Homo sapiens: one gene and its partner. Changing the gene in region 2 together with the main gene of any one other region gives a genetic interaction. Each region holds a gene or a part of one and is shown on either strand. Other genes may lie near its edges.

What was found.
Region 1: changes in MRPS35 (region 2) and PGD together harm fitness more than expected from each alone (negative genetic interaction), as found in Homo sapiens cells (one large-scale study listed by BioGRID).

Annotation. Positions count from the first base shown.
Region 1 is NC_000001.11:10,412,549-10,416,369, forward strand, and holds part of PGD (6-phosphogluconate dehydrogenase, decarboxylating), read left to right. Parts: intron 1-513; coding exon 514-703; intron 704-3,821. UniProt on the Homo sapiens protein: Catalyzes the oxidative decarboxylation of 6-phosphogluconate to ribulose 5-phosphate and CO(2), with concomitant reduction of NADP to NADPH.
Region 2 is NC_000012.12:27,738,128-27,741,948, reverse strand, and holds part of MRPS35 (small ribosomal subunit protein mS35 isoform 1 precursor), read right to left. Parts: intron 1-3,821.

The DNA of each region.
Region 1 (3,821 bases), on a different chromosome or scaffold from region 2:
ATTGGTATATATAATACTTAACGTGTTCACTCAGCAAACACACGAGTGCTTTACTATATGCCAAGCATGATTCTAAATGCTGGGGATATACTAGTGAAGAAAGCAAAGTGCCTGCCCTCCCGGAGCTGGGAAGACAGACAGAAATAAATATACAATATCAAACTAGTTAGCGATGACTGTGAGAACGAAGAGTAAACTGGGACAAGATCCGGTGATTGCAGAAGGCTTCTGAGGAGGCGACACTGCACAGAGACCTAAGTGAAGTGAGGAGCCCTTGCCTCTGAGGAGACAACACTTCTGGTGGCCAGAAATTCAGTATAACCAGGTTCAGAACAAACACAACTGACTCTGGGTTAGCATAAAACTCAACCAGCAGGAGCAGAAGTCCCCAGGCAGACGCGAGCAGAGCCTGCTGGCAACCGTGAGCATTGGTCAGCGTGGACATTGGACAAGGGGCTTCCTTGCTCAGCCCTCATTCCTCTAACATGGTTCTCTCCTGTGTTCTGCATGTAGGCCTTTGAGGATTGGAATAAGACAGAGCTAGACTCATTCCTGATTGAAATCACAGCCAATATTCTCAAGTTCCAAGACACCGATGGCAAACACCTGCTGCCAAAGATCAGGGACAGCGCGGGGCAGAAGGGCACAGGGAAGTGGACCGCCATCTCCGCCCTGGAATACGGCGTACCCGTCACCCTCATTGGTAATGTTATGCTTTTCACATGGGCCCTTTCGTCCACTATTCTGATCTTGATGTCTGGAGGACAGATACAGACTGGTCTTTAGAGAATCTCTTCAGCCCTCTTTAGCTTTCAGAGTGCCTTTTGCTCTTTCTTGCGTTGAAGAAACTGACAGTGTGAGAGAGGCTGACGCTGCTTTTGATTCTCTTCCTTGTAGTTCTTATCTCATTCGTACAAACTGTGAGGTAAATTCAGAAGTGACTGTCCTTCCTATCCAGTTTTATCTTTGGAATATTTTAGCATTAGTGATGTAATTGTAGTCAGTGATCTAAGATTTTATTTATGAGGCAGGTAACTTGAGTAAAATTTTTCATAGAAAAGTTCATGAATAACAGGGCCGGGCACAGTGGTTCACGCCTGTAATGCCAGCACTTTGGGAGGCCGAGGCGGGTGGATCATGAGGTCAGGAGATTGAGACCATCCTGGCTAACATGATGAAACCCTGTTTCTACTAAAAATACAAAAAATTAGCCAGGTGTGGTGGCACGTGCCTGTAGTCCCAGCCACTCAGGAGGCTGAGGCAGGAGAATTGCTTGAACCTGGGAGGCAGAGTTTGCAGTGAGCTGAGATGGCACCACTGCACTCCAGCCTGGGTGACAGAGCGAGACTTCGTCTCAAAAAAAAAAAAAAATTAGCAGGTGCCTGTAATCCCAGCTACTCAGGAGGTTGAGCCATGAGAATCGCTTGAACCCAGGAGGCAGAGGTTGCAGTGAGCCAAGATCATGCCACTGCACTCCAGCCTGGGCAACAGAATGAGACTCCATCCCCTCCAAAAAAAGTTTGCGAATAACATATGCTTGTGTACTCAGAAATTATTAAAAATTTACTTTTTTCCCCTAGATATTAAAAAGATAAAAATTACCTATCCATTTGAGTCCTCGTTGTTTTGCTAAGTTCCTTCTCCTTCCTCTTTTAGAAGAAAGCCACTATCCTGAAGTTGGTGTGTATCCTGCCCACTTGTTTTATATCTTACATTAGTGAGCTAAGCATCAAACTCAGAAAGATAAGGAAATAATATAAAGAAATAAACATAAAACGAGAGGGGATTAACAATATCAAAATCTTGGCCGGGGGGGTGGTTTTCAGTGTGTTTGTTTGTTTTTTGAGACGGTGTTGTGCTCTGTCACCCAGGCTGGAGTTCAGTGGCATGATCTCGGGTCACTGCAACCTCCACCTCCCGGGTTCAAGTGATTCTCCTGCCTCAGCCTCCCGAGTAGCTGGGATTACAGGCATGCGCTACCATGCCTGGCTAATTTTTGTGTGTTATTAGTGGAGACGGGGTTTTACCATATTGGTCAGGCTGGTCTCGAACTCCTAACCTCAGGGGATCTGCCCGCCTCGGCTTCCAAAAGTGCTGGGATTGCAGGCGTGAGCCACCATGCCCAGCAAAGGTGGTTCTAAGAGTAAAATACATAGACTTCTGGCAGGAATGAAAAAGGAGAACGAAGGATGCCTCTCGTGGTTAATGAGAGGCTGATCTTTGCTTCTGGCAGATTGTTCTCACTATATTAAAACAGAATTGGGCCAGGCGCGGTGGCTCACGCCTGTAATCCCAGCACTTTGGGTGACCGAGGTGGGCGGATCACGAGGTCAGGAGTTTGAGTCCAGCCTGACCAACATGGCGAAACCCCATCTCTACTAAAAATACGAAAGTTAGCCAGGCATAGTGACCCGTGCCTGTAATCCCAGCTACTCAGGAGGCTGAGGCAGGAGAATCACTTGAACCTGGGAGGCGGAATTTGCAGTGGGCTGAGATCGCACCACTGCACTCCAGGCTGGGCGACCGAGCAAGACTCCGCCTAAAAAAAAAAAAAGAAGCATCTCAAAAATAATAAAACAGAATTTTTCCTGTTTGCTCCTCTGGATACAGGTTGCCTTTCTCTCCCTTGACTCTTCTCCCCTTTTGACCTCCCTGTTCATTGTGCCTCGCCCTATTGAACTGTGTGGTGTAAGGCAGAGTAAGGAGGAAAGTCGGTGGTTTCTACAGTTCCGTGCTGTATAGAAGGAAGTTGGCTGCTTTTAGCCGATCTGAGCCATAACATAGGTGAGGAGGGAGGGGCCAATAGCTAGGAGCAATTTATTCATCACGGACTCAAGTATATGTGTAAGTATTAGGATCTCAGAATCCTACTCTCCTCCTGTGGATCCATATACCTCTTCCCCCAGGGTGGCTGGGCCCACCCCCTGCTGGGAGCCATCATTATTTGTGAACTAACAGGGAAGTCTTCCAGCTGCCCTCTCCCCCTCTAACAGGAAGGGTTTGCCTCATAGCCTGTTGCACCAGTCATCTTACAAAGCTTCCTTCTAGAAATGCTAAGTCATCCTGTGTGTGCATTTGGGCCAGGAGAGAGGTAGCTGCTTTTGTGTGTTTGGAGTAGGGTTAGCAGTCTCAAGCCATAGCTGCTCCTCTTTCCTCAGAAATAAAGTCCTCTGTTAGTTCCCTGAGATTTTACTTCATTTTGTCTATGGGGGAAAAAGTGGTTAAAGAGTCATTTATTCTAACTATAAGTTGTCAGTTGAGCAAGTCTTTTATAAGGAATACTTTCTGAAAATACTAAATGTCTTAATATTAAAATACTACATTGACTTTTTAATTCAAATGAAGTAAAGTGGTTAAACTTGAATGATTACGGCTATACTGAAAACCGTAAAATATAAAAACCTAACATTTTTTTGAGAGGTGAGTCCGTAAATGTGACTTATCAATGTAAAATCTTCAAAAAAAAAAATTAAGGTCCTCTAAATTGAATTTGAAATTTTACTCATGGACCAACACTGAGTATTCTACATAACAGTGGTTTTTATTTTATTTTACTGGTTTTAGAGACAGGGTCTCACTGTGTTGCCCAGGCTGGAGAGCAGTGGTGTGATCATGGCTCACTGTAGCCTTGAACTCCTGGGCTCAAGTGATCCTCCCACCTCAGCCTGCCAAAGTGCTGGGATTACAGGTGTTAGCCACCTTGCCCAGCCATAACAGTGGTTTCTATCTCTTCATTTTCCCTCAAAACTCCCTTTTGAATTTCATGTTAATCTTTGTGATTGAATACTCATGTTTGTATTGGAAGATTGTCTTAAGAGTTT
Region 2 (3,821 bases):
CCATTTTATTACAAAGCTAGACATAGTTCTGACAATAAAACTATCATGAAATCCAAATAAGACAGCCGAAATTTTAAAATGTAAAAAAGCAACCATTAGTAATTCAATATCAAAATCACCCATGAATCTCTGAAATTTGATTTCAGATCTCTAACTTTTCTAAAGCAACTGTTTTTTTTCTCTTCCCCAGTATTTGTGCTCATCTTTTGTGCAAGTCACTTTGCAAACTGACTCATTATTTCTCAACCTAATCATTTACGGAAGGTTTCAATTATTAAAAAATCACTAAAAAGTTAAAATTAAGGAAGTTGTGTTATCATCAATTATGTCAAATTGTGAGTAGGATACACATCCTAAAGAGTATAGATCTGACTTTACTTGTACAAACTCTGCCAAATTAAATATAAGCTGTATATATTAATAGAAATTGGGAAACCATGAATTTAAAATTCTAAGAAAAAAATCTTTCCTCATTTTATTATTGTTAATATCAACATTATTTATAGATGCTTATGGAGAGCCCACTATTTGCCAGACACTTTACACAAATTCTCCCTGATCCATCCAAAAATCCTTAGGAAAAAACTGAACCTCAGAGGTTAAATAGTCGAGGCTATTACACAGGTACTAAGTAATGGCCCTGGAATTCAAATCCATGTCTGTCTGGCTCCAAAGGTTAAAAATTCATTCCAATGCTAACAATACGTAATACTAAAATAGGACACCAAATCTCTACAACTCTCCTTGCTTATTTTTTAATTATTATTATTATTTTTTTTTTGAGACAGAGTCTCACTCTGTCGCCCAGACTGGAGTGCAGTGGTGCGATCTTGGCTCACTGCAACCTCCGACTCCCGGGTTCAAGCGATTCTTGTGCCTCAGTCTCCCGAGTAGCTGGGACTACAGGCACCCACCACCATGCCTGGCTAATTTTTTGTATTTTTAGTAGAGACGGGGTTTCATCATGTTGCCCAGGGTGGTATCGAACTCCTGAGCTCGGGCAATCCGCCTGCCTTTGCCTCCCAAAGTGCTCCCAGCCTCCTTGCTTCTTTAAACTGCTGAAGGATAAATGAATGGTCCAGTGAATATGTGTCTCTTATCACCTTCCCAGCACTGAAATAATTATTCTTTGAGGCAGTATTAAGCCTTTATGCCTGAAGCTTAGGCTTTGCGATGTCTATGCTTACTGAAATCTACTTTGACACTTCTATAGTTAAACTGTTTTGAATAGTATACAACAGTAATATCCTTCTACTGGAGTCTAGGTGATCACTTCTCCAGAGGGATTTCAGTACTACAAGCTACATAAAATTAGCAGCTACTTTCCCCTCAGTGCTACTTAGAGGTAACCTCTAGGGGAAGGTTAAAAAGCCAAGGGAAGGCAGGGCACAGTGGCTCATGCCTATAATCCAACACTTTGGGAGGCCAAGGTGAATGGATTGCCTGAGCCCAGGAGTTCAAGACCAACCTGGACAACACAGTGAAATCCCATCTCTACAAAAAAAATGCAAAAATTAGCTGGGCATGGTGCCATGCGCCTGTAGTCCCAGCTATTCAGGAGGCTGAGGTGGGAGGGTCACTTGAACGCAGGAGGCCAAGGCTGCAGTGAGCCATGATCATACCACTGCACTCCAGCCTGGACAACAAAGCAAGACCCTGACTCGAAGAAAAAAAAAAAAAAGCCAAAGGAAGCATATATTTGGGTATTAAATGCTCAGAAGCTAGCCTATAAAAAAAATCAAGCAATGGATTAAAAAGAGGCTCTCTATTTGATTAAATAACGGTGATAACATCAATTTCAAGTATGAATTCCATGTTGGTGAGGGAAAATGAATTTCAATTCAATAAAAATTCTTTTCTAGCAGCTCCGCAAAATTTCACGGCTCATCTGTATTCAAAATCTTCTTCACTGATGGTACTTGTTTAGAAAGCACCAAGAAACAACGGTAATATAGAATTCTTCAAGTATACTTGTTTGGACAGTTGTATGTGGCTACTTATCCTGGCATCAAAGTAATCAGCACTAAAGATCAAAGGCTTCTGTGTGAATCCAGAATGCAACCCTGTTTGGATTCTAAGTCACGGAACCACAGAAAGAATCCCATAAATCAACTTCCACTGAATTTATGCCTATCATTTCCTTCTGGGCAAATTCATTCTAATAGATACTGGCAAAATAAGAAAGTCAAAACGGGTTGTATTTATTGTTAGTTATTAAATCTTTAAGCAGCAACAGCCATAAAGCTGTAGCTAATTCAGCCATGTTGCTGGTTCAAAAGAAAACTTAATTATCTTAAGCCAACAGCATTTCTAAAATCAATTGTGTAGGAAAGAGATTAACTGCTATTCTGATGTTGCTCTTAAAGCCAGAACTAGAAAATCCAGATAAATTATAATAATGGAAATAATTGTAAAGAAGAGAAGAGCTTACCAGCTACTTTTTGTCTTTTACTCATCTCACAACCAAGTTTTTTTCTTTCACTTTCCATTCATCCTCTTGTGTGAAAACTCTTTTATCATAATATGAAGGAAAAGCTGTGAGCAGTTTAGAGAACAGCTGCATGTATTCACAGAATCACAGTAACTTGGGCTGAAAGGAGGTTCCAAAGGCCATGGAATTTAACTACCTATTCAAGGAGTATATTTTTTTTGCCTATCTTCACTAAGTGGCCGATGGATGGAATGTTTTCTACCTACTGAAGTAGCTCATTGCATCTTATGATGGCTCTCTCACAAAGTTCCCCTTGGGAGGGCTGGACATGGTGGCTCACAACTGTAATCCCAGCACTTCGGGAGGCCGAGGCGGGTGGATCACCTGAGGTTAGGAGTTCGAGACCAGCCTGGCCAACATGGCAAAACCTTGTCTCTACTAAATATACAAAAATTAGCCAGGCGGTAGTGGTGCATGCCTGTAATCCTGGCTACTCGGGAAGAATAACTTGAGCCTGGGAGGCGGAGGTTGCAGTGAGCCAAGATCGCTCCACTGCACTCCAGCCTGGGCAACAGAGTGAGACTTTAAAAAAAAAAAAAAAAAAGTTCTCAGTAAACCAAAGTCTGTCTCTGTCTTACTATTGTCGCTACCTTGTTGTATCTCTAAGAGTCATTAAAAACAAATGTAAGCCCTCTTCCATATGAAAACTTTTATTTTTTCTATTTTTCTTTACTTCTTTTTCCTTTTTTCACTGTTTCTGTAGACACTGACATATGAAGTCCTTTCTAAAGAACATGACCCCCTTCTCCAGCTAACTTTATTCCTTTGAATGTTCCTAGTATGAAATGCTATTGAGTCCCCTGTGTTGGGTAAGGCACAAAAAATTTAATTTAAATGCATACCTATAATTATTTTAATTTTAAAAATTACTGTTTCAAACTTTGAGTTACCTAAACATATTGGCTACCAACTTCAAATCAGATGAGGTGTTGCTCAAGCATGGCAAAATCTTCCTTATAAATGTACATACTTACATGAAAACTCTCTAAATTCAGACTCGAGTATTTTTAATATTATTTAAATACAGGTTTAGCATTACTAATCTGAAAATCTAAAATCTGAAATGCTTGAAAATCCAAAACTTTTTGAACACTGATATGACACACAAATGGAAAATTTACACTTGATCTCATGTGATGGAGCACGGTCAAAATTTTCATGCACACAATTACTGAAAGTATTGTGTAAAATTACCTTTAGGCTATGTGTATAAAGTGTATATGAAACATAAATGAATCTCCTGTTTAGACTTGGGTCCCCTCCCCAAGATATCTCATTATATATTAATATGCAAATATTCCAAAATCTGAAAAAATCTAAAGTCTGAAAC